7 linked regions of the Homo sapiens genome follow. The protein of the gene in region 2 purifies or fractionates together with the protein of the main gene of each other region. This does not show direct contact. Each region holds a gene or a part of one and is shown on either strand. Other genes may lie near its edges.

The links.
Region 1: the proteins of SLC22A15 (region 2) and PI4K2A purify together in Homo sapiens (affinity purification with mass spectrometry; one large-scale study listed by BioGRID and IntAct). This does not show direct contact.
Region 3: the proteins of SLC22A15 (region 2) and LMBRD2 purify together in Homo sapiens (affinity purification with mass spectrometry; one large-scale study listed by BioGRID and IntAct). This does not show direct contact.
Region 4: the proteins of SLC22A15 (region 2) and SLC25A30 purify together in Homo sapiens (affinity purification with mass spectrometry; one large-scale study listed by BioGRID and IntAct). This does not show direct contact.
Region 5: the proteins of SLC22A15 (region 2) and CCNB2 purify together in Homo sapiens (affinity purification with mass spectrometry; one large-scale study listed by BioGRID and IntAct). This does not show direct contact.
Region 6: the proteins of SLC22A15 (region 2) and ANKRD13C purify together in Homo sapiens (affinity purification with mass spectrometry; one large-scale study listed by BioGRID and IntAct). This does not show direct contact.
Region 7: the proteins of SLC22A15 (region 2) and AHCTF1 purify together in Homo sapiens (affinity purification with mass spectrometry; one large-scale study listed by BioGRID and IntAct). This does not show direct contact.

The regions. Positions count from the first base shown.
Region 1 is NC_000010.11:97,639,377-97,643,470, forward strand, and holds the start of PI4K2A (phosphatidylinositol 4-kinase type 2-alpha), read left to right. Parts: upstream 1-1,294; 5' UTR 1,295-1,366; coding exon 1,367-1,801; intron 1,802-4,094. UniProt on the Homo sapiens protein: Membrane-bound phosphatidylinositol-4 kinase (PI4-kinase) that catalyzes the phosphorylation of phosphatidylinositol (PI) to phosphatidylinositol 4-phosphate (PI4P), a lipid that plays important roles in endocytosis, Golgi function, protein sorting and membrane trafficking and is required for prolonged survival of neurons.
Region 2 is NC_000001.11:116,063,513-116,067,012, reverse strand, and holds part of SLC22A15 (solute carrier family 22 member 15), read right to left. Parts: intron 2,578-3,500; coding exon 2,505-2,577; coding exon of another isoform or gene 2,501-2,504; intron 494-2,500; coding exon 305-493; intron 1-304. UniProt on the Homo sapiens protein: Organic zwitterion/cation transporter with apparent specificity for amino acids and their derivatives. Has low affinity for its substrates and may regulate their flux across the plasma membrane at high substrate concentrations.
Region 3 is NC_000005.10:36,134,888-36,138,387, reverse strand, and holds part of LMBRD2 (G-protein coupled receptor-associated protein LMBRD2), read left to right. Parts: intron 1-946; coding exon 947-1,114; intron 1,115-1,868; coding exon 1,869-2,079; intron 2,080-2,164; exon of another isoform or gene 2,165-2,252; coding exon of another isoform or gene 2,253-2,336; intron 2,337-3,500. UniProt on the Homo sapiens protein: Recruited to ligand-activated beta-2 adrenergic receptor/ADRB2, it negatively regulates the adrenergic receptor signaling pathway. May also regulate other G-protein coupled receptors including type-1 angiotensin II receptor/AGTR1.
Region 4 is NC_000013.11:45,404,874-45,408,373, reverse strand, and holds part of SLC25A30 (kidney mitochondrial carrier protein 1), read left to right. Parts: intron 1-2,396; coding exon 2,397-2,491; intron 2,492-3,500. UniProt on the Homo sapiens protein: Antiporter that transports inorganic anions (sulfate, sulfite, thiosulfate and phosphate) and, to a lesser extent, a variety of dicarboxylates (e.g. malonate, malate and citramalate) and, even more so, aspartate.
Region 5 is NC_000015.10:59,111,646-59,115,145, forward strand, and holds part of CCNB2 (G2/mitotic-specific cyclin-B2), read left to right. Parts: intron 1-2,798; coding exon 2,799-2,969; intron 2,970-3,072; coding exon 3,073-3,231; intron 3,232-3,500. UniProt on the Homo sapiens protein: Essential for the control of the cell cycle at the G2/M (mitosis) transition.
Region 6 is NC_000001.11:70,278,223-70,281,722, reverse strand, and holds part of ANKRD13C (ankyrin repeat domain-containing protein 13C), read left to right. Parts: intron 1-3,500. UniProt on the Homo sapiens protein: Acts as a molecular chaperone for G protein-coupled receptors, regulating their biogenesis and exit from the ER.
Region 7 is NC_000001.11:246,929,149-246,933,277, reverse strand, and holds the start of AHCTF1 (protein ELYS), read left to right. Parts: upstream 1-1,329; 5' UTR 1,330-1,700; intron 1,701-1,919; exon of another isoform or gene 1,920-1,950; coding exon of another isoform or gene 1,951-1,970; exon of another isoform or gene 1,971-2,051; coding exon of another isoform or gene 2,052-2,149; intron 2,150-4,129. UniProt on the Homo sapiens protein: Required for the assembly of a functional nuclear pore complex (NPC) on the surface of chromosomes as nuclei form at the end of mitosis. May initiate NPC assembly by binding to chromatin and recruiting the Nup107-160 subcomplex of the NPC.

The sequences.
Region 1 (4,094 bases), on a different chromosome or scaffold from region 2:
TCAAGCGATTCTCCTGCCTCAGCTTCCCGAGTAGCTGAGATTATAGGCATGTGCCACCATGCCCGGCTAATTTTGTATTTTTAGTAGAGACAGGGTTTCTTCATGTTGGTCAGGCTGGTCTTGAACTCCCGACCTCAGGTGATCCGCCTGCCTCAGCCTCCCAAAGTGCTGGGATTACAGGCGTGAGCCACTGTGCCTGGCGGGTTTTTTTCTTTTAAAAATTTTTTATTTTTTGGCTGCACTGTGGGTGGTTCACACCTGTAATCCCCCAGCACTCTGGGAGACTGAGGGAGGAGGATCGCCTGAGGCCAGGAGTTCAAGACCAGCCCAGGCAACATAGAGATAACCTAACTCTAAAAAAATAATAATAATATTTTAAAAAGAAATCTTCAGGGCTTCCTAGGAAAACCTGGAGGCAATTGTTAAGACATTTTATCCTGACTGGCTACTTCACCCATTACCTTCAAGTTCCTGCGAACTTGAAGTGTAACCTGACATTGTTACATCTACATTGGAAGTATGTTAGGTCAACTGAGATACGAATTTGGGATACAAAGTACAATGTATAGCCAATCTATAACTTGTTATTTTAATGTAAATTCTTGGTAAACAAGTTAGGAACTGCCTCTTTTCCTTTAAAAACCTACTTCCAGGCCAAGCGCAGTGGCTCACACCTGTAATCCCAGCACTTTGGGAGGTCGAGGTGGGCAGATCACTTGACCTCTGTCGTTTTTTTTTTGGAGACTGATCACTCTGTCTCAAAAAAAAAAAAAAAACAAACCCAAAAAACAAACCCCCCGCCCCAAAAAAAACGTTTCATCGAGGTAGAGCAGCAGCTTTGTTTCTTTGCTTCACTGCTGTCTCCCTAGCACTTAGAACATAGTACGTGCTCAATAAATGAATGAGTGCCTGACTGAATGAATGAGGATACATAGATGAGATTCCTCCAATCTCACAGCCGGTTCAGAGTAGGCACTCAATGAGTGACTGACAGGATAGTTGCTGTTTTGAAAGCGCCCAAGTCCAGTAAGCCAATTGGAAGCTAAGCGTGGCGCTGGTATAGTAGGGGCAGGGGGCGTGCCTGACCCAAGGTTGGGTCCTGGAGCATGCGCAGTCTTCACAGAAGGTGACGGGGAGAAAAATGCGGAGGCAGCGATTGCGTAGGAGCAGGTTCTGATTGGCTACTGTTCGCGCGCGAGGGGCCGTGCCTATTCGTAGCCAAGTAAACAGGGCAGGTTAGAGGCGGGGCCAAGGAGGCGTCGCGACCTGGTTGGCCGGCCGGGGCCTGGGGGATGTCACGGATTGGTCGCGGCCGCGAGCGCAGTGGTGTGGAGCGCGCCGGGTCCCGGAGCCGGCTGTCTGAGGGATGGACGAGACGAGCCCACTAGTGTCCCCCGAGCGGGCCCAACCCCCGGACTACACCTTCCCGTCGGGCTCGGGCGCTCACTTTCCGCAGGTGCCCGGGGGCGCGGTCCGAGTGGCGGCGGCGGCCGGCTCGGGCCCCTCTCCGCCGGGCTCGCCGGGCCACGACCGCGAGCGGCAGCCACTGTTGGATCGGGCCCGGGGCGCGGCGGCCCAGGGCCAGACCCAAACCGTGGCGGCGCAGGCCCAGGCTCTGGCCGCTCAGGCCGCGGCGGCAGCCCACGCCGCTCAGGCCCACCGCGAGCGGAACGAGTTCCCGGAGGATCCTGAGTTCGAGGCGGTGGTGCGGCAGGCCGAGCTGGCCATCGAGCGCTGCATCTTTCCCGAGCGCATCTACCAGGGCTCCAGCGGAAGCTACTTCGTCAAGGACCCTCAGGGGGTGAGTGCGGGGGTGGGGACCGCCGCCGCGGGCTGAGGGCCGGCGGCGCTCCTGGGGAGTTGGGGGCTTCGCACAGCCAGAGGGAAAAGGGAGAAACTTCACAGTACCAGCCCCTGGCAGGATTTAGGGATGCCACTGAGGACTGGAGCTGGGGACGCTCTGCGGAATGGAGAAATAAATCAGAACCTACTTGGTGGGGGAGGAGTGAGCGGAAAATGAAAAGAGGAAATTGACCAGATACGGGCCGGGGGCTCAGCGGTGTGGTGGGGCAATCCGCCGCTGGACAGAGACTGCTTTCTAGTAGGGTACTTAGCTTCACACTACTGGGACAGCTATTCGGCCGCCGACTTGCAGATTTGGGGCTTTAGGCCTGTTCTCTCTTTTTGGACCGACCGAACCAGTGTGTCGCTGTTCACGGAGGAGGATGGGTGACCTATCAGGGGATCTGAGAATTCAGTTCCAGCCTTCTATGTTGTGGGGGATGTCCCCTGCCACCGTCCCAGCTCTTATTAACAGACGTTGAAGAAAGAATGGGCGGACTCACCAGTTTCATCTGCCCTGGGTATTGCTCACTTCTGGGAAAGGGTTCAAATACTTTTTGACGACTCCAAAGTTTAGATAGAACTTGGAGTTTTAGAAACATGGGGCCATCAGCTACTTTTTCTTTCATTTCTCTCCCAGGGCTATCAACAGCCTGCTTTTCAACTAAGGCAGAGCGTTTGCCGACCTTTATTTTGTCCCCTGCCTGTATATAAAGGGGGATGGTTATAGGATGGGGCATGGAGTGACCAGGGTATCTGAGAAGTGACCTTTATCCTTTTGAGAACTGCAGAATTTAAGAAATACCAAGTCTTCCCTGTTTTCAGGGAAGTTTCAGGGAAATTTTCAGGTGTGCTGCAATGGGTCATTGGAAAGATGTATTGTTATTTAAATTATGGGTGTCAAAGTTTCCTCAGATTTTCCCTGACATCTCTCCTGTGTGAACTCTTTAGATGGCCAGGGTGCTGTTTTAATAGGAGTCCTGAGTGGCCAGGACGGGCTGTTACTTGTAGCTCTTGGTTCGGCTCATTGAATGATCTAGTTATTCACTCAGAGTTTGAGTCGTCCCTGAATTAATCAAGAATTAGAGAACAATTCTGCCATGAACTCAGTTTCTCAGTTTACATAAACTGAGTTGGGGAAAGCTTTGCGAGTAATAAGTCTTTCGAAGTTTCTTTTTCTTTTTTTTTTTCTTTTTTTTTTGAGACAGAGTCTTGCTCTGTCGCCAGGCTGGAGTGCAGTGGCGCGATCTCAGCTCACTGCAGCCTCCGCCTCCCAGGTTCAAGCAATTATCCTGCCTCAGCCTCCTGAGTGGCTGGGACTACAGGCGTGCACCACCACACCCAGCTAATTTTTGTATTTTTAGTAGAGACCATGTTGGCCAGGATGGTCTCGATCTCTTGACCTTGTGATCTGCCCACCTCGGCCTCCCAAAGCGCTGGGATTACAGGCGTGCCACCGCGCCCGGCCTCCAAGTTTCTTAAATAAAAGAGCTTGCAAGCTCAAGTGGGAACCATCATTTCTAGAAGCAAAGAAATGTGAGTGCCCTGAGGTTTAAATGTCAGCCAGAGGCTTGCTTGCTTTCTCTTTCTTCCTTCCTTCCTTCCTTCCTTCCTTCCTTCCTTCCTTCCTTCCTTTCTTTCTTTCTTTTTCTTTCTTTCTTTCTTTCTTCCTTCCTTCCTTCCTTCCTTCCTTCCTTCCTTCCTTCCTTTCTTTCCTTTCTTTCTTTCTCTTTCTTTCTTTTTCTTTCTTTCTTTCATTCATTCTCTCTTTCTCGTCTTTCTTTCTTTCAGAGAAGGTCTCACTCTGACACCCAGGCTGGAGTGCAGTGGTGCAGTCTCACTGCTCACTGCAGCCTTGACATCCAGGGCTCAAGGTCCTCCCACTCAGCTTCCGAGTAGCTGGGACTACAGGCACGCACCACCACACCCGGCTAAAAATTATTTTTCATGGAGACAAGAGTCTCGCCATGTTGCCCTGGTTGGTCTCAGACTCCTGGCTTCAAGCAGTCATCCTCTTGCCTCAGCCTCCCAAAGTGCTGGGATTACAGGTGTGACCCACCATGCCTGTCCTTTTTTTGTGGGCAGAGGGTATTTTTAGTTTGTTGGCAAATGTAAGAAGGGGCTAAGATTATCTTTGATAGGTACAGGAGAAGGAGGAATATTTTTGTTTTTCTTTCATGACACTGTTAGAGCTGCATTGGAAGTGGGTTAGGTCAGCTGAGAAGTGAGCTGGTGCTTTGACAGATGGAAGT
Region 2 (3,500 bases):
CAGGAAAGAAGAAAAGGGCAGTGAAATGATGTTATGACATTTCTGAAATGGAAACTACCATCTAGCTATTCAACTGACAAATGTATTTATATGACATTCATTCCCCCAAGAAATAGCCCCTAAAATATTCTAGGAAAGCTAATGAATCATCGATCATCCTTATTTCTCTGAAAATCAGCTGCTGTTAGATCCCACTTTTGTTTTCCAGCAGTTTTACTCAGTTCTATTTAATTTAACGCAAACCTTCTTTTTTTCATTAACTGCCACTATCCAAGCGGTATAATAATTAAGAAAAATATCACACCTGTTGGGGGTCCAAAGCCTGTAAAGATAATGCTTCTTCTCCCAGCCTGCGATACGAATACACCTGAAGGTCGGAGAATGTTTCTAGCAGCGGACTGTTAAGGGTCTCCGGCAATAACAAACTCAGGAGGCCGGAGGTCAGACCCGTGGCTCCGAAGACAATGAATGGTAAAGACCATTGCACATATTTCTGCAGAGGCGGGGAGTGGAATGAAAATAAACCAGAGAATTAGTTTCCTTAGCATGTAATACAAGCAGTCTCATGACTGAAAAACTGTCATGTTTACCACCTAGTTCATGACCTCGCACTAGACAACACTATAAGCCACTTCTTTCCACATAAAGAATTATCCTGGGAAATCAGAGAATGATTCCTCAGGCATGTAGAGATGGGAGTGAGTAAATAAAAGGACAGCACTAGTCTGTACATTAGAAGCAGCAATTTCATGTCCGGGGTGGGTACTGTAGGAGAAGAGGCCAGGCTGCCTCTGAGCAGGCAGGCCTATATGGCCAGAGCTGACAGGACATCTTGTAGTTCAGCTTCCATTCCAGGTGAGCACACTTTGCACAGAGGCATCCCAAAATACTTGCTGATGATGAACTTTAAAGTTCTTAATCCTGGAATTGGCCAAACCATCCTATATACCTTAAGACCGTAACTGAGAGTTCCAGGGATTAAAGGTGTAAAAACTCTTTTAAAAAACCAACCCTACGACATACATATGGCTTATAAACTTCTAAACTGAACATGGTTAAGGGCTGGTGATACAAGCAATTGTTTCAGAGATCCAAAACATATTCTCAGGAAAACGGAAACATTTCATCACAAAGAGATTCAAAGAAAACATGAAAAACAGTTGCTTCCAGGGTGTTTCTCTGGGGCTTTTCTGAGCTGATCAACATTTTAGAATTCCTGCTAAGCTTTATGATCTTCTGGTTTAGGCTTCCAAATTTCGTGGGTAGGTCCACTACTAATTAGGATTTCCCCTCAGACAATTTTTTCCTGATTTTTCAAAGTGAAGAGATGATGGAGAAGGAGGTGGAAAAGGGAGAAGGGGGAGGAGAAGGGAGAGATGGAGAGAACCGAGCAGAAGACAGGGATGAGGAGGAAGAGGGAGGAGGAGAATCTCTCATCTCTAGCCATCTACACTCAAACATATGTCCAGCACTGTGGGCCTGTTGTTGAAACAAGGGGAACACACACTTTCCCTTCTTCTAACCTTGTAGGAAGCAACAGAGACACAGTGCTGGGTATTATAATGTTGTAGGATAGCTATCCAAAGTCAGATATCTCTAACAGTACCTATATTTTGCAGAATAAAACACAGACCTACATGACTCCTTTAGGAGAAGGGTCTTGTGAACTAAAATTAATCATGAGACATGGAGAGAGATACTCTGAGAAGGGAAATGTACTGCACCTCAGAAAATGAAAAGGTTATAATGGCATTTCAGAGACCTGCCTAAGTAATGAACAGTTGTCTACAGAACAGGTCCACAAGTCCCACATCAAATCTAGTTGCTTTCAAAAAGTCTTGGCTGTGGAAAGTCACAAATCAAACCAAGGAGAGACTTGCGTAGGGGTCCCCTGGGTTCTTTCACAGAATCTGAGCATTTTAAGATGAAGGATTTTAGGGCTGTCATTTAATCTGGTTCCCTTTCTTTGACTATACAAGTTAGAAAGTTTCAAAAAAAAAATATTAACAGACACAGTGAGAGACATATTTCTCCTCTAATGTTATTTTCCAGGAGGTGTGTTCTTGGGGGAAGGTATTTAACCTCTCTGTAGCATGTCTCATATTTAATACAGGGGTAACAACAATGCCTTCCTCTTATGGTTACTATGAGGACTGCATGTGATGATATGTAGAAAGTGCTTGGCATAGAGCCCAGCACACAGCAGAAGTGTCATACATACTTATTAGTTGACTAACTTTTTCATGGGGACAGGAATGGGGCACACTGGCATTAGCAGACCCTCCAACAAATCCAGATGAACAAAAAATCAGACCCACTGGAGGCAAATGAATCCTCGATAAGAGTCCATCTGCCCTGACGGAATACTATCTAAAAGGGCCAAGGTTCACATTTGTGTCAGCTGATCTTAAATGACATCTGTTCATCACCTCTTTCTACTAAAAAGCATAAGCATTTCCAAAGCAGAGAATCAAGAAAAACAAAACTAGAAGGTACAAACCAACCAGTGAGGGGATGAAGGGAGCAATAATCCCACCAACTCGGGAGAACATGGAACAAGTTCCAAGCCCAACATTCCTGAAAAGCATAAGTAAAAATACATCAGTAAGTTCTAGCGGAGGAATTAAGAGACCCTTGGGGGGCAGCAGCGGGCCTTGAATAACATGTCCTGAAGTGGAAGCACAGGATCCTAGAGAACAGTGGGTTCTAGAGCTGCCTACTAGATGTTCCTGAGATGCTAGGAATGTTCTATAATTACCCAGTCCAATGTGGAAGCCACTAGACACAAGCACTACTGAGTGCTTGAAATGCAGCCAGGAAGGATGAAGAACTGAATGTTTAATTTATTTAATTTTAATTAATTTACACTTAAATAGCTACATGAAGCCAGTAACTACCATATTGGACAGTGGATCCACAAAGGATGATATAGAAATGAGCATTTGAATATTTTTAAGTTAAAAGTTCTCATGGATTTTCATGCCTTAGATCTCCTACAGACTGCCAGGGTTTTATGATCTGAAAAGGCTGCTCATTTATTTAAACTCAACTAACTAATTAACAATTAACAGGTCAATCATATAAATAGAAATTGACTAAGCGTGTACTGTCAGGAAACCAAGAACACCTTTATGGGGAGTGCAGGCATAAAAAAGATAGGAAGGAGAGAGGGAGGGAGGGAGAGAGAATGATAATTAATGGTTTTGGGTAGAGGGATACAGCACTCTGTAATCCCAGCTGAAAAGTTCATACCCACATTTGCTCTCAAAATTGTCCCAGAGTGGACAAAATCATCATCCTAGTTTTATAGCCAGTAGCCAGGTAAAGTAGGTTATAGGACCAGCTAGGAAATTACTAGCCAATTGCAGACACTCTGCTCTCTTACTAGGAAAAATAATTTTAAATTAACAGGCAGAAAGAACCATGAAGCTTCTTGCATGGATAAGGGAAGGAGAAGGATTGTTTGGAATGATCCTCTAAAAGACTGAGAAAGAGCTGGC
Region 3 (3,500 bases), on a different chromosome or scaffold from region 2:
TTCTGTTCTTTTCCATTTCTGTAACATACCCCATTATATGTATATGCCATAGTTTATCCTACCCAGCCAAACTTCTTAAATAAATTCTCTATATTTGATATCTCCACTTGCTCATTGTTTACTTATTTCTTAACCATAGTACTCTGCTTTCTATTCTCCTCCACTTATACATACAGGTTCTTAATTTACTTCACCTCTTGGCGGCATTTGATTCTCTCTCTCCACTTTAACTTTCCTCTCCTAGTTCCTAATCCATATGCTCCTTGGTTTTCTTCCTTGCCCCACTATTGTTCTGTCTCAGTCTCTTTTGCTGGTCTACCCTCCTTCTGTTCTCTACCTCTCTTAAAAGTTGATATTTCTCAGAGTTCTGTCTCAGTTCTTTCCTTCACATTCTCCATACTCATTCTTACAGTTGAGTATCTACTGATGTTATTTCACTGCCATTGATACAGTGATGACTTCGGAAGCTATCCATATTTTTAGTCCGCTCTCCTGAACCCTGAAGCTGGGTTTGTGTGCAGCTCCTCTTGGATGTCTCCTAGGTACTACTTCAAAGTCAGTATGCTGTCAACTGACCTTCTCCCTTTTTGCTTCTTACCACCATCATCACCCTTCCCCCTCCCAACTAGTTCCAATTTTGTTCCCCTTTTATCCATTCTCCGTGTGAAGCCTTAGGAAACTAAAATTTGATCAAAAATGTTTTCTTTGAATGTAGTCCAGACTCTTCATAAAGGCTTTAAAGACCCATTTGCTTTCCCTAAAATTTTATATTACAAAAATACTCAGTCATCTATTATAGTTATTAAGTATTCATGATTACTTATAAACATTTATTAATGAGAAGACCTATTCATTAAAATTGAGATTCATATATTTCTGGCACTTTGAGATTATACAGACATATCAATTATTTGGGTTTTTAATCATATTTTTTCTATCCATCTAGGATTCTCTTACCTTTTATGCAGTCATATGCAAGATCAGGAGGGTTTTCCATCACTGGAAAGATCAAAACTGCACTAATTGAGAATGCAATCTACTATGGCACCTATTTGCTGATTTTTGGAGCATTTTTAATTTATGTAGCTGTAAACCCACATTTACATTTAGAATGGTAAGAAAAGTAGTCTTCTTAACATTGCTTTAATGTATGTTTGCATTTTTAAAAAATCATTTTTAATTTCATATGTGCAGGTAAAAAGACATTTCATTGAGAAATATATTGTTACATATTTTATGGATTTCCCCAAAAGAATATGTGAATAATCCATATTACTAAGAAAATATGGAATGACATCTTTAAATATAGATTTTAGGCAAAAGATTAATGATTAGTCTAATGGCTATATATTAAAAGTAATAACCCTTATGATTTTTGGATAGAATTTCAAAATTTTTATGATAAAATAACTGGTTTTATTTTTCATTGGAACTTGTGATTTTTTTTGTTTTGATTATAATTTGAAGGCATATTTGTTCTTAATGTTACCTTGGATTTAGATATTTCAATAAAATTGAAATCTGTTTTATACTTATGATTTGTAATATATGTGAAGGTCTACATCTGAAAATTTAGGAATAGATCAGCAGTGCTAGGTCTCACTATTGTATTCCTGAGATTTGCTAGGTCAGCAACACAGGTTAATTTGAAACATTTTCAAACTTCTTTTGTTTAATATAGAATAAGAAATCACCTAATGAAAAATGTTTCCTTTGGGAAAATATATACATATTATTGCCATGAATTATTCTAGATGCTAATTTTAACTGCAGTAGAAACAGTGTCTCCTGTGTTAAAGTCTATTTATGCAGTCGCATTTTATCTTTCCATTAAAATATACATATTATCTGTTGTTTCCCTTTCTTAGGAACCAGCTTCAGACAATTGGGATAGCTGCTGCAAATACATGGGGTCTGTTTCTTCTTGTGTTGTTGTTGGGGTATGGCTTGGTGGAAATTCCTCGATCATACTGGAATGGAGCAAAAAGGGGTTATCTACTTATGAAAACGTATTTTAAGGCAGCCAAACTGATGACAGAGAAAGCAGATGCAGAAGAGAATTTGGAAGATGCCATGGAGGTAAGCAAGTTTGAACCTTATAAGCAATAGTCACTAAGTCATATGTATCCCCTTTTAGTCATTTTTGGTTTGTTGTTGTTGTTAGTGCATTGATGGGCTTCAGACTGCAAAACTGGTGTTGTGCAATCCTTCAGGATGTCTCATCCAGGATGACTTTTTAGCAGTTCAGCCTCATGATGTGTCTTGTCCATCTTCTGTCTGACAGAGATTCATGGAAAATATATTCAATAGTGCAGGGCTACGCCTATTATTTTGAGGTAACTTTTAATAGTACCCTCTTTAATTTTCAAAAGTCTCCGAGATTAAATGATAAATTGTATGGTTACCCTAACATAGTAGAACTGAGAATAATGACCAGAGGACACTTATTTCCGAAAGGTTAACCTAAGGTAATCCCACCAATTCTGGAAACCTCTTTAAAGAACAATTTGCATGGGAGTTTGTATTGGTAAGTTTTGTTTCCTATCTGTAATCTTAATAAGACACTTCATTTTACTTGATGACTTAACCTAGTTTCACAAAGTTGTTGAAAGTATAACTTTCAATACTGTACATAAAAATATACAACAAATTATAAAATTTTTCTGTGTTAAATAAAAATTTTGTTATGGATTTAAAGAGATTATTGTAGTCACCTCACATTTTTGCTTCCCAGGGAAAATATGCTACTCAGCTGATGATACTCTCCAAATTAAAACTCCTGTTGAAGGCTTTTCATTCATGTTAGAATAAACTCCAAAATGTTTTAATGCAGCCTACAGAAAAATAATTTGGCCTATGTTTAGCTCTCCAGCTGTATCCCAAGCCTCTATTTTCTTGCACTGGTCATCTTTGGTTTCTCAAACTTGCTAATGTTGATGAAATAATAAACAATTCTATAGACTTAATATTTACCTAACACTCAACTTTCGTTCCTCAAACTTAGTAATGGTGATAATTATAGTAAACAATTATATAGACTTACTATTTGCCTAAGAGGGACTTTCTAAGCACTATACATATATTTAATTCTCATGACTTTATGATAGAGATTTTTGTAAATCCCCATTCTATAAATGAAGAATATGAGGCACGGAGAGATTAAGTAACTTTCTCATGTCTACATGGCTAGGAAGTGATAAGAGCCAGGCAGTCTTGCCTTAAACAGGGACTGACAAACTTTTCTGTAAAGGGCCAGATAGTAAATATTTTAGGCTTTGTGTGCAATGTCATTTCTATTGCAACTACTCTGTCATTGTAGGATGAAAGCAGCCATAGCCAGTAAATAAATGAATGAGAGTGGGTGTGTTCTAGTATGAGAACAAGTAGTGGACTGAATTGATCTGGCTTGATGACCATATGCTTAATTATTACACACATTGTCTTTCTTTTCTATCTTTGAGCATGCTATTCCCAAACTATTAGAATGCTCTTTTCAGCAC
Region 4 (3,500 bases), on a different chromosome or scaffold from region 2:
CAATCCCCAGAGGTTTTTGTTTTTTTAATTGAGCCAATATTTTAAAAATGAGAAATTGCACATAAAAATCTGGGACTCCATCTTCTTGAGAGAAATCAACATTAGGCCCACATTCATTCAGTTATGACAGTAGTAGCTGGGGTGAAGGATACTGTCTCTGGTTTACAAAACCTCTGTCACTCACATAGTATATGTGTGTGCAGTTCGACCCAGCCTGGATCATTCACTCATGGCATCTGCTTTCTTGGTACCTGTCAGCATTTGAGTTTGCTATATCTATGGCAGACAGAAGCCACTGAAAGTGTTTAAGTAGGAGGATGGACCTGATCAGCTTTACATTGTAAACATCACCTGCCTGCCATGGAGAGAAAGAATTAAGAGACAGGGAGCACTAGAAGCAGGGCTGTCATGTAGGAAGACTAGATGAGGATCTGAATTGGTTTTGGGGATGAGGAAAAAGAAGACAGGCTAGAAAACTATTTAGGGTGTAGGACTGATAGCACTACGTGACCTAATATGAGGTTTCCATACATGAAGCGGGTAGAAGGGAAGGAGGAGCCAAGACTAATGTCTCAATTGGTGGTTTTTGCCAGTGTGTAGCTGGAGCTTCCATGTCCTGGTTTAGGAAACACAAGAGGAGAGATGACTGTTTGGAGAAGGAAGAGAAGTAGTTCAGTGTGGGACCCTATCTGAAGGTATACACAGGACATCTAAATGGAGAATCTTGGAAGATTGGAAATGTGTCTTTGGATCCATGTTGGAAGCATGGATTTGGAGTCATCAGTCTTTTATTTTATTTTTCATTTATTTATTTTGAGACAGGGTCTTGCTTTGTCACCCAGGCTGGAGTGCAGTGGCACAAAATGGCTTACAGCAGCCTCTACCTCCCAGGCTCAAGTGATCCTCTCATTGCAGCCCCCTACATAGCTGGAACTATAGGCACAACAAGCCACTGCACCTAGCTGCACACACACAAACACACACACACAATTTTTTTTTTTAGATGGCGTTTCACTCGGTTGCCCAGGCTCACTGCAACCTCTGCCTCCCAGGTTCAAGCAATTCTCCTGCCTCAGCCTCCCGAGTAGCTGGGATTACAGGCACCAGCTATGACAACCGGCCAGTTTTTTGTATTTTTAGTAGAGACGGGGTTTTACCATGTTGTCTAGGCTGGTCTTAAACTCCTGACCTCAAGTGATCCACCCGTCTCGGCCTCCCAAAGTGCTGGGATTACAGGTGTGAGCCACCGTGTCTGGCGCTACTTTTATATTTTTTATAGAGATGGGGTTTTGCCATGTTGTCCAGGCTGGTCTCAAACTCCTGAGGTGCAGTGATCTGCCTGCCCTGGCTTCCCAAAGTGCTGGGATTACAGGCATGAGCCACCGTGCCTGGCCAGCCTTTAGATGGCAGTTGAAGCCTTGGGAGTAGGTGAGCTCACACAGGGAACATGTACAGTAAGGAGAGAAGAAGCATAGGATAGATTTCTGGGGAACCCCAGCAGACACAGGTAGGATGCTGTAGAGAAAAGAAAAGAAGTCAGAGGGGGTGATGCTACAGCAGAACAGGGAGGAGACAGCTACAAGTAGGACAAAGGGTAAACAGTGGCACACACTGCAAAGAGCTTATACAAGATCCTACTTGAAAAGCCTCATTTAACTTAGCAACAAAGATGTCAGTTGGTCACCTTGAAGAGGGGAGTTTTGAGGGTGAGGGCAGCAGAAACCCTGATTGCAATTCAAGAAGGAAGTGGGGAAATGCAGAAAGACACCCGGGGAGTGTCCATGCCACAACGTGGTTGTGGTTTGGAGAGGATAATAGGACAGGCATATCGGATGGAGGAAAGTAGGCTTGTTTTTCCTGATTCTGTCTTGAACTTCTTCACTTACATTTTCATTGAGAATAAATATGAGGGGCTAGGCTTTCACTTAGTGAGCTAATAATTTGCACATCTGGACCCACCTGTGTTTTTGTTGGATTTTGAATTTTACGAAATCGTTTTAGAGGCCGGGTGCAGTGGCTCATGCCTGTAATCCCAGCACTTTGGGAGGCCGAGGCCTGAGGTCAGGAGTTCAAGACCAGCCTGACCAACATGGCGAAACCCCGTCTCTACTAAAAATACAAAAATTAGCCAGGTGTGGTGGCGGGTGCCCGTATTCCCAGCTACTCGGGAGGCTGAGGCAGAAGAATCGCTTGAACCCGGGAGGCAGAGGTTGCAGTGAGCTGAGATCAAGCCATTGCACTCCAGCCTGGGTGACAGAGCGAAACTCCGTCTCAAAAAAAAAAAATTGTTTTAGAGAATGTAGTTTGATTATGGATGGCACTCTGCATGTGGGTTGCCTAGCCGATGTTAAGTGATTTTTAGATTGCTTTTGTCCCTTTGTACATTGGTTTAACAGGATTGCCCCCGCGATGTTACGCCAGGCATCCTATGGCACCATCAAGATAGGCACTTACCAGAGCTTGAAGCGACTATTCATTGAACGCCCAGAAGGTGAGTGGGGAATCTGTTTTCCACTGTGGACAGGAGGTTGGTTGTCTGTCTTTTTATTCAAGTGGTTTTGGAGCAGGTTTTCTTCAGCTTATTTGTGACTTTCCTACTGCTACAAGAACTCTGGGTGTAAAGTCTTAGTTAATTGTGCTGAAAGCAAGTTGGTTATCAACTCAATTGAGGGGAGAAATAATGAAAAGGAACCATCTCTGCAAACATTTTAATTAGTTGTCCCCATCTCCAAAATGCCTAGACCAGGGGATGTGTTGTTACTATTCCATCCAACTTAAAATTTGCTAAAATCATATGAATTGTCATCTATTTTTCAGGAAAACAGTGAATACATTTCTTAATATTAACAACACTGAATGCTAATACTCTGGCTTTTTGGTTCTGTGGCTTTGTTTTGATCCATAGAACTGTCCATCTTCATCTCTTTTCACAATGGGATGAGTACCAGACACTATTATGTAAGAGTGGTGAACAAGAGCTAAGATGCTTTGGAAATACTTCAGGATATTTCAAACTAAATACATACGATGTGCTTTAAAAACTTTCTGTGCCAAATAAGTCGTCATGTTATCTCATAGGAATTATTGTCCTAACAGATATAGCTCATCTTAATTATGATGGTCTGAATTTATACATAAATGTGAACTGGGGCTGGGTGCGGTGGCGCGTGCCTGTAATCCCAGTGCTTTGGGGAGGCTGAGGCGGGCAGATCACTTGAGCCCAGAAGCTCCAGACCAGCCTCGGCAACATGGTGAAACACCATCTCTACAAAAAATACAAAATATTAGCCAGGCGTGGAGGTGCACGCCTATAGTCCCAGCTACTGGGGAGGCTGAGATGGGAGGATCACCTGAGTCCAGGAGGTCGAGGCTGCAGTGAGCTGTGATTGTGCCACTGCACTCCAGCCTAGGTAACAGAGTGAGACCCTATCTCAAGAGAAAAAAAATAAAATCACATTTAGATATCAATAAATTTTGCAAAGCAAAATTCCTTCATTAGT
Region 5 (3,500 bases), on a different chromosome or scaffold from region 2:
TCTTCTCATACCTCACAGGCTATCCTGCTGACATCTCAAATCAATTTGCAGTTCCCAGAATTGCCTTGATTTTCTTTGGTTTGCTTTTGCCTGTTCATCTTCCTTAAGGTCTTACCGTCTCTGGTACCCTGGGTACCTCTACTCATTTGTTCTAGCTCCTTGAGGTTTCCAGGTTCCCAAATTCTATTCTATTCTTTTCTTTCTTTCTTTCTTTTTTTTTTTTTTTTTGACAGAGTCTCACTCTGTCTCTAGGCTGGAGTACAGTGGCATAATCATGGGTCACTGCAGTTTTGATCTCCTGGGCTCAGGTGATTCTCCCATTTCAGCCTCCAAGTAGTTGGGACAACAAGTGTGCGCCACCATGCCTGGCTAATTTTTGTATTTTTTGTAGAGGCGAGGTTTTGCCATGTTTCCCAAGCTGGCCTCAAACTCCTGAGCTGAAGCAATCCACCTGCCTCAGCCTTCCAAAATGCTGGGATTACAGGTGTGAGCCACCGCACTTGGCCTGGGTTCTCAAATTCTTGTATAAATGGCATGCATGCCTGCATAGTTCTTGCTCACCTGGTTCTTCCTCAGTTTAAGACCTTTGATTTAAGAGGGGAGGACATGTTTTAAACTGTTTTTTTGTTTTGTTATTGTTGTTATTGATGCATCCTCGAAGACTGGAAATTATAATCATTGAGCTTTACTGTAAATTAAAATTGTCTTTTTTTTTTTGAGACAGAGTCTCGCTCTGTCACCCAGGCTGGAGTGCAGTGGTGTGATCTCCGCTCACTGCAACCTCTGCCTCCCAGGTTCAAACGATTCTCCTGCCTCAGCCTCCTGAGTAGCTGGGATTACAGGTGTGTGACACCACAGGCCCAGCTAATTTTTGTATTTTTAGTAGAGATGGGGTTTCACCATGTTGGTTAGGCTGATTTCAAACTTCTGACCTCGTGATCCACCCACCTTGGCCTCCCAAAGTGCTGGGATTATAGGCGTGAGCCACCAGGCCTGGCCGCCTCCTCTTTTTAAAAAATATTTTATTACCTTAATATATATTTGTATAGCTTAGCATCTTGTTAGGTTTTACTTGGAGAAGTACTTTTTTTTTGAAAGCATTGATTTGGCTGGGTGCAGTGGCTCAAGCCTGTAATCCCAACACTTTGGGAGGCCGAGGTGGGCGGATCACAAGGTCAGGAGATCGAGACCATCCTGGCTAACACGGTGAAACCCCGTCTCTACTAAAAATACAAAAAATTAGGCGAGTGTGGTGGAAGGCGCCTGTAGTCCCAGCTACTCCAGAAGCTGAGGCAGGAGAATGGCGTGAACCCGGGAGGCGGAGCTTGCAGTGAGCCAAGGTCGTGCCACTGCACTCCAGCCTGGGCGACAGAGCGAGACTCCATCTCAAAAAAAAAAACATTTAAAAAAGCAAAGATTTTTTTATCTTTCATTAATAAATACTTGTTTTAACTGCTTTATAAATTTTTAATTTGCATAATTTTTATAAATAATTACCCAGTCAGCATAGGAAAGTGAAATACTGAGTTGTGAACTTGCTCAGTCTTCGCTCCCTTCTCCTATTTTATTTATAGACTGCAATATGCTTTTCTCCTTTTTAGTTGCCAGTTTTTCAATTTAGAATAAATTAGTTAAAGAGAAGAAAACATTATACTGCAGAAGAGGCTGCTACTAAAGTAGAATGATCAGCTCCAGTAATCTTTGAACCCAGGTGGTCAAGTTTCTTCCATTTATTGAGCACCTACTACGTATCAGGGATTATATAGATGTTTGAGGTGCCTTAGTGGGCAAAACCAATTAAATAAACGTAAGCTTTTAGAGCTTACATTCTGGCAGAGGTAGACAGAAAATAATACACATACTATATAAACTATAGAATTTTAGAAGTATAGGTATTATGAGAAAAAACAGAATAATACACATATAAACTATAGAATTTAGAAGTATAGGCTTTATGAGAAAAAACAGAATAATACACATATTAACTATAGAATTTTAGAAGTATAGGTTTTATGAGATGAGACATATGGGTAGGGTAGGAGGACAGGGATTGGAGGCAGGTGATAATTTTGTTTTTTGTTTATTTGGTTGGTTTTGAGGCGGAGTCTTGTTCCGTCCAGCCCAGGCTGGAGTGCAGTGGCGTGATCTTGGCTCATTGCAACCTCTGCCTCAGCCTCCTGAGTAGCTGGGACTACAGGGGCGCACCATCACGCCCAGCTAGTTTTTGTATTTTTAAAGTAGAGATGGGGTTTTGCCATATTGGCCAGGCTGGTCTTGAACTCCGGGGCTCAAGCCATCCACCTGCCTTGGCCTCCCAAAGTGCTAGAATTACAGGCGTGAGCCACCGTGCATGGCCTGATAATTTTAAATAGGAGTTAGGATAGACCCCATTGAGAATGTAACATTTAAGTAAAACTTGAAGTAAGGGAATTACCCATATGGACATAGGGGCAAGAGCATTCTGGGTAAGAAGAACCTGGCTTGAGTGAAGCAGTCAAGGGAGAGAAGCAGGAGATGGGTCAGCGAGGGAACTGGGGAGGGCCAGATTATATAAGGTCTGTAGGCCATTGGGAGGACTTAAGTTTTCAGTTTGAGTGAAATTAGAGAGTTTTAAACAGAGAAGTGTCTCTTGAAGAACTTCACATACTATATCTTGAATTATTCACCTCTTGGTATGAAATTTGTTGTGTCTTTAACATATTTCAGATGTGCGTATGATATTGATATTTAAGCCAGTTGGCTCTGCATGTATTTATGGTTAAGGCTGCTCCTACATGTGCCTAAATTTGTTGGTGTAGGGTCCTTCTCCCACACCTGAGGATGTCTCCATGAAGGAAGAGAATCTCTGCCAAGCTTTTTCTGATGCCTTGCTCTGCAAAATCGAGGACATTGATAACGAAGATTGGGAGAACCCTCAGCTCTGCAGTGACTACGTTAAGGATATCTATCAGTATCTCAGGCAGCTGGAGGTAGGTGGGCCTTTGTGTTTTGGTTGTATAAGCAATGTGGAATTTACCACACAGCTGGGAAGCAAACAAGGTCAGCTTTTTAAACTTTTGATTCTACCCACAGGTTTTGCAGTCCATAAACCCACATTTCTTAGATGGAAGAGATATAAATGGACGCATGCGTGCCATCCTAGTGGATTGGCTGGTACAAGTCCACTCCAAGTTTAGGCTTCTGCAGGAGACTCTGTACATGTGCGTTGGCATTATGGATCGATTTTTACAGGTAGGTGTGGCTTCAGGGACTTCACGCCAGTGGCTCATTGAACATTGCATTTATGCTTGGGGGATAGAAAACTAAAGTGGGTACTTCTGAAAAAAAGACCAAAAATCAAATTGTGAGAAGCCAAAGAACTTTGGGGACTAAAAAGGGAAGTAATCCAAGTGTGTCAAGCCTTTGATGATGCGGACCAATAATGGGCATTTCTGTAAGGCCAGCCAGCTAAAAAGTACTTGGGGGAAATATTGCATTGCCACAATCCTTCATCAGAGGAA
Region 6 (3,500 bases), about 46 Mb from region 2:
TCCATTGGTTAGAATTTAACCCGGGCATGGTGACTCATGCCTGTAATCCCAGCACTTTGGGAGGCCAAGGTGGGAGGATTGCTTGAGCTCAGGAGTTCAAGACCAGCCTGGGCAACATAGTGAGACTCTGTCTCTACAAAAAAAAAGTAAAAACAAGCTGAACATGGTGGCATGCATCTGTAGTCCCAGCTCCTCAGGAGGCTGGGGTGGGAGGATCACTTGAGTCCAGGAGGTCATGGCTGCAGTTTGGTGTGATTGAGTTACTGCACTCCAGTGTAGGTGACAGAGCAAGACCCTGTCTCAAAAAAAAAAAAAAAAAAAAAAAAGAATTTAGTCACATGATAACACCTAGCTGCAAGGATTTCTAGAAAAGGAGTCTATTCTAGGAAGTCATGTGCTCATCCAAAAATTTGGAAGAGAGGTTCTTTCACAAAGACTAATGGGAGAACAGATACTGGGGAGACAACTAGCAATCTCTGACATCTCATCAGTGAGTACATAAACACTGGTAACTGTCAACCAGATATATACCTTTAACTCTATTCTTCCGTCATATCACCACATCTATAGTGCTTTTGCCTACCTCTACTTGGATAAACATAGATGTCTAAAATTTAGTGTGTCTAAATCAGATAATGCTTTCTTCCCTCCTTCCTCTTTTCTCTGTCTTAGGTAGTAACACCATTATCTCCTTATTTACCCCAGCTGGCAACCTGAAATTTCTTCTTAGACTTCTTAGCTTTCCTGTTATCTCTATATCTGATCAATCACAAAATCCTAAGGATCTCTTGAGTCTATTTAGTCTATTTTCTGTCCTTCCATTTTTAAACAACATGCCCTTATCATTTCTCATTTGGATTACTGAGATAGCTTCCTAAATACACTGCCACCAGAGTAATCACCCTGAAATAGATTGAATCATGTAATGGCTATGCTCAGTAACTAAAATGTATACAGTACTTGCTATGCGTGAGGCACTATTTTAAGCACTTTACATTTAACAGCCCATTTTTATCATCACAGTAAACCCTCTGAGGTTATATAGTTGACAGAACTGAGGCAAAAGAGGTTGAGTAATTTGTTTGAAGTCAGCTAGTCATTGTCGAAGCCAGAATTGGATCACTCTGGCTCCACAGTTGGTGTTTTAGCTACTATATTGTATTGCTCAAAATATTTGTCCATTGCTTCCTGAGTAAAATGTGATCTACTTCATATGTAAAACCCTTTCAGGCTACTTTTTCTCTTCTGTGTCTGGCCACTTTTCTCTTACTACTAATCTTCATGTATACTACTCATACAACTAGACACACTACACTTGCAATTTCCCAGTATGTCATGCTTTCTCTCACCATTCTGCTTTCCCCAGTTCCTTCAACCAGTTCTTTTGTTCTTTTTTAGACTCCTCAATTCAGGAGTCAACCAGTCCACGTCTTTTGGCTACCCTAGTCTGTCATAAACCTCTTCTGTGCATGTTTATATCATTCTGTAGCCCCTGTCACCCTCAATTATATCATAGCCCCTGTCACCCTCAATTATAAGTATTTACTTTTTGTGTCTCTTGATAAGCTTCTCAAGGAAAGAACATTGTCTTTCATCTTGCCTGATACTAAAAAACTCTGTTTCCTTTCTTTCCACATCCCTCGGCTGCTACTCAGAGATCATCAATGACTTCTAACCAACAAAATTTATGGCTTTTTCAGGCTTCTTTCTCTTCAAAGTCTCTGTAGTGTGATATTGAAACAGTCTTTTCTTTTGGCCTCCATTATACCATAAGGGAAACTAAACTTTACCTCTTCCAAACTTAGTTCTTAGTTGAGATGGACTCTCGTACCAAAAGACAGATTTATAAGGGAAAAGCAAACAAGTTTATTAATGCGTGCCGCACACCACACAAGAAACCCCAAGGAAAAGTAACTCAAGGGCTGATCACAGTGGCTTATGCCTGTAATCCCAGCACTTTGGGAGGCTGAGTTGGGCAGATCACTTGAGGCCAGGAGTTTGAGACCAGCCCAGCCAACATGGTGAAACCCCATCTCTATTAAAAATACAAAAATTAGCTGGGCTTGATGATGCACACCTGTAATCCCAACTCAGGAGGCTGAGGCAGAAATATTGCTTGAACCTGGGAGGCGGAGGTTGCAGTGAACCGAGATTGTGCCACTGCACTCCAGCCTGGGTAACAGAGCAAGACTATGTCTCAAAAAAAAAAAAAAAAAAAAAAAGTAGCTCAAAATAGTGGCTTAGAACTCTACTTATATAGCATCTTCAACAAAGAACAATAAATTTATAGAGAAATGACAGGACAAATGAAAGTGATTTTAGGTTTCCAAGGACAGGAAAGGAGTAAGGTTTGTTTGCAAATTCCTCTGGTGCTGTCACTGGGCTAGTAAGAGTATAGAGTTATCTCCAGTGAAGCAAAATTTATACTCTGTAGTTCGGCAGAAAACGGAGGGTAGAGAAAAAGCTTTTCCTCCATTTACTGCTTCCCTCTCTCTCTCTCTTTTTTAATTTCTTTTGAGACAGAGTCATGTTCTGTCCTGTAGGCCGGAGTGCAGTGGCATGATCTCGGCTCACTGCAGCCTCCATGTCCTGGGCTCAAGGAATCCTCCCACCTTGGCCCTTCAAGTAGCTGGGACCACAGATGTGTGCCACCATGCCTGGCTACTTTTTTTTTTTGTATTTTTTGTAGAGATGGGGTTTTGCCATGCTGCCCAGGCTAGTCTCAAACTCCTGAGCTCAAGGGATCAACCTGCCTTGGCCTCCCAAAGTGCCAGGATTATAGGCATGAGGCACCACACCTGACCTGCACTAAGTTTTTTATATACGTTATCTCCATTAATTTTTAACTATGAGTTAGTGGCCCAATTCCCATTTTGCAAGTGAGTTAAGTTGACATAATAGAAAGTAACTTGCCCAAATTCACACAACTACCAGGTATTGGAGCTGGGATTCTAACTCAATTTTGTGTCTTAGCAATCCTTGATTTTAACAACTCTAATATATGGCTCATTAACATCTTACACTAATTATATGTAAAACCACATTTCTTGAATGAGACCCTCTCAATGTTATTAACATCTTATTATTCATATTAGTCTTTCACTTATTGTCTTTTTGCTCCATAGTCCTGTTAGGTTTTCATTAGCAATTGAAAAAAAATTTTTTTTTAATTTATGAGGTTTTTGTTTTGTTTTGTTTTCTTGAGACATAGAGTCGCTCTGTTTCCCAGGCTGGAGTGCAGTGGTGTGATCTTGGGTCATGGAGTGCAGTGGTGTGATCTCAGGTCACTGCAATCTCTGCCTCCTGGGTTCAGGTGATTCTCCTGCCTCAGCTTCCTGAGTGGCTAGGATTACAGGTGCGAGCCACTACGCCTGGCTAATTTTTGTATTTTTAGTAGAGATGGGGTTTCACCATATAGGCCAGGCTGGTCTTGAACCCCTCACCTCAAGTGATCCACCTGCCTTGACCTCCCGAAGTGCTAGGATTACAGGCATGAGCCA
Region 7 (4,129 bases), about 130 Mb from region 2:
CCTGTAGTCCTAGCTACTCTGGAGGCTGAGACAGGAGAACCTCTTGAACCTGGGAGGCGGAGGTTGCAGTGAGCCGAGATTGTGCCACTGCACTCCAGCCTGGTGACAGAGCGAGACTCCGTCTCAAATAAATAAATAAATAAATAAATAAATAAAATAAAAAAATTAATGGGACGTAGTGGCGCATGGTGGTCCATGCCCATAGTCCCAGCTACTTGGAGGGCTGAGGTAGGAGGATCATTTGAGCCCACGAGTTCGAGGCTGCTGTGAGCCTTGATTACACCACTGCACTCCAGCCTGGGCGACAGAGCGAGACACTGTCTCAAAAATAAAAAAATTTAAAAAGCACATATGAAAGGTAACAGAAAAGTAGAAACTTTCCTGATAAAAGAGCATCTTCTTAAAATCCCTACTCTACCTCATGTTATAATCCTTTTACTTACTACTTAGTATTAAGGATACGTTCCCTATCTGTTTGAAACATGTTTGGCGCTGGGATTTGCTTCAAAGGAAGATACTAACAAGAAATAAGAAATTCCACAATGAAAACCCGCGGTGACCAAAAAGATAACAGTGATTTGGGGTAAAATTTTGACTAAAAAGATTAGGCTAGGCTGCGCGAGCATTTTTGGCCATGAAAGCACAGGAGGATGCTAGAAAAAACAGCACCGTGGAAAAAGCGTTTCCCCAGAAGTCTGGGAGCCCACCTTTGGCATGAAAAGCGGGAGCACAGGTTGTAGTGAGCCAAGATCGTGCCACAGCACTCCAGCCTGGGCAACAGAGCAAGACTCCGTCTCCAAAAAAAAGAAAAAGAAAAAAAGAAAAGTGGGAGCACAGAACAGAAAATACAGAATGCAAGCTGCCAATTATGGGAGAAAGATTATCACTCGGCCCCCAGCTGGCAGGGCCACACGATTACGTGACAAGAGAGTCCGCCTGCAATCGCAGCAGGCGGCTGGCAGAGCCCGGCGCGACCCCCAGCGAAGACTACCACTCCCAACTGCGCACGGGGCGCGCCGCCGGGGCCGCCAGGGCGGCTTCACGCGCAAGGCACTGTGGGACTCGTAGTCTTTCTCCCCACCAGCTCCTCGGAGGCGGAGAGACCCGATTTTTTTGTAAATGATCCGCCCTTCCAGGCCCTGCTTCTCTTTCCTCCCTTTCCCTCCCACCTCCTTCTTTCACCGAGAGTTTGAAAATTCCCGCGGAGCCGGCGCTAGAGCGCGGAACCATCGCGAGAACTCTGGTCCCTGCAGCCGCGATCTCCCGCCGGTTCTCCCCTCCCTCTCCGCCCTTTCCTCTGCTCCCTCCCTTCCGGGGCGTGTGGAACTCGGTTTTGTCGGCGCAGGGTAATGCGCAGAGCGGGGCCGGCGCTGTCCGAGGCGAGCAGGCAGCGTTGCAAGGGGAAGGACCCAGAAGCGCGGCGGGAGCAGCGACTGCGTTTTAGCCGCTGAGCGGTCTGCAGGCCTACAGCCCGCGAAGGCACTCTCGGGGGCGTGTGGCTCTGAGGTGGCCGGGGAGGTCGCAGGCGGCGGCCGGAGCGCAGAGGAGCGGCTTCAGCCGGGCGGAGGGGTGTGAGCCCGGCCCGTGGCGGCCACGTCTCCCGGGAGATGCTGTGACGGACCCGCACGGGAGGAGCTCGCGCCTGGCCTGGCGACCCGGTGGACTCGGCCCGCGGCGGCGCGCTCACCCGCCCCGTTCAGGTAGGGGGAAGGGAGGGAGGGGGTTGGGCCCGCGCGGCGGAGGGCGGGTCGCGCGGCCTGGACCCGCGGCGGCGGCGGCGGCGGCGGCGGCGGCGGCGGGGCTTCTGCCCCGCGAGCGCCGGGCCTAGGCCGGGCGTGCGCGGGGCCAACGGATGGGGCTCGAGGGGGCGAGCGGTGGCGGTGGCGGGTACGGCAGGCTCGCGGGCGCCGGGCTTCGTTACATAATCTCGGACCGGAGGAGCGGCGGCACATGGCGGCGGAGCGGCGCTGGTGGTTCGCGTCCTGCGCCGGCAGTCGGGTCCCTTTACGGACGGCCGGGGCCGCGACCCTTTCCCACTGTTCTCCCACGCGATGGACTCGTTGGCGGGCCTTTCCCCGAGGGAAGCGGCCGGCGTGCTGAGCCTGTCCTGTGTTGGCGTGTGTTCCACATGCGCTTGGGCCTGGCCACAGTGAGTAGTCCTGGCGGGGAAGAAGTTGGACTCGGGGCTCAGCCGTGAGGTTCCAGCTCACCCGATTGGTCAGATCAAGGAGATTTAAAATAAAAGCACATCTTGGGGTGCTTTGCCTTCCTTTTTCCTACCTGGGAAACAGGACGGTTTCTTTTGCCACTGGTTGACTGTTTTGGTTTGGGTGTTTTGTTTTGAGAGATGGGGAAATTTTGTTCTCAAAGCTTACGAGGTTCATACTATCTGTGTGCAAAGTTTTATGAGATGAGCGTTATTTTTATTTCCAAATCGTCAGTTGTAGAAATTTTTGGAAGAACTGGGTTCTTCATAGAACAAAACGTAAATCCTTTGGGGAAATCCTAAACGATATTTATTCTCAGAATATCCTAAAGAACCTGTAGATTTTAAGAACTGTCTTTGGCTGGGCGCAGTGGCTCCTGTCTGTAATCCCAGCACTTTGAGAGGCTGAGGCGGGAGGATCGCTTGAACCCAGGAGTTTGAGACCAGCCTGAGCAACATGGCGAGACCCCCCCTTTTTTTTTTTTAAACTGTTTTTTTGTGAGCTTTCACTGATAGAGTCTCTTAGGAGAGAAGAAATTAGAGTGGTTTACTTATTTCGGAGGATTTGACCTGGGATGACAAGCCCAGTTAAGGTTAATACTTGAAGGGATGTTTTAAGTGTGCCAAGCGCTATGGGAAGTCTACGTTGTCTCTGTACTGTGATTTTTGGATCCTGATCCTTCAGTAACATACTACCAAGCTGTCACGAGTTTGCAAACAACAATAATTATCTTGAAAAAATTTTTAAAACATCATGTCAACCGGGAATTGGTGGCGCCTCTAGTCGCGCGCCTACTTGGGAGGCTGAGGCGGGGGGAACGTTTGAGCTTCAGCCTCAAACTGAGAGTTCGAGGGTTGCAGTGAGCTAGGATCGCGCCGCTGCACTCAGCCTGTGTGACAGAGCGAGAACCTGTTGCTAAAATAAAATAAAAAAGATCGTTATACATCAGTTTTGAGACTTTTGTTTTCTTTTTATGCTTCTCCTTTTTCATAGGTACAGATACATCTTTTTTTTTTTTTGAGACGGGGTCTTGCTCTGTTGCCCAGGCTGGAGTGCAGTGGCACAATCTTGGCTCACTGCAACCTCCGTCTCCCAGGTTCAAGCGATTCTCCTGCCTCAGCCTCCTGAGTAGCTGGGATTACAGGCGCACGCCACCACACCCGGCTAATTTTTGTATTTTTAGTAGAGACGGGGTTTCACCATATTGGCCAGGCTGGTCTTGAACTTCTGACCTCGTGATCCGCCCGCCTTGGCCTCCCAGAGTGCTGGGATTACAGGCGTGAGCCACCGCGCCCGGCTGGTACAGATATATTTTAAGAGGAAGCAAAACGTTGTGTCTTTCACGCCTACCTTTAATATTTTCAGGGACTTTTCTTTCTTCCCAGAATGAAGTGTAACTTCCCTCGGTTAGCTCAAAGGTCTCTACAATAAGTATATGCTACTGTCTATCCTCATATGTTAACAAATTTTATGCTTTTGCTATTCCAGAATCGTCATCAATCCTGGACTCATTCTGTGGAAGAGATGTTTCCACTCTGATGTTTCTTTGCTCATGTCCTTCATCCTGGAGTGCCATCTTTCCTTTTTTAAATACTCAAATTTCAGGTCCTCCTTCTAAATCCAATGTTTTCACTGTATTTTTATTTTTATTTTTATTTTTTTGAGACGGAGTCTCACTTTGTAGCCCAAGCTAGAGTGCAATGGCGTGATCTTGGCTCACTGCAACCTTCGCCTCCAGGGCTCAAGCGATTCTTGTGCCTCAGCCTCCCGAGTAGCTGGGACTACAGGAACGCGCCGCCACACTCGGCTAATTTTTTGTATTTTAGTAGAGACGGGGTTTCACCATGTTGCCCAGGGTGATCTCGAACTCCTGAGCTCAGACGATCTGCCCACCTCGGCCAACCAAAGTGCTGGGATTACAG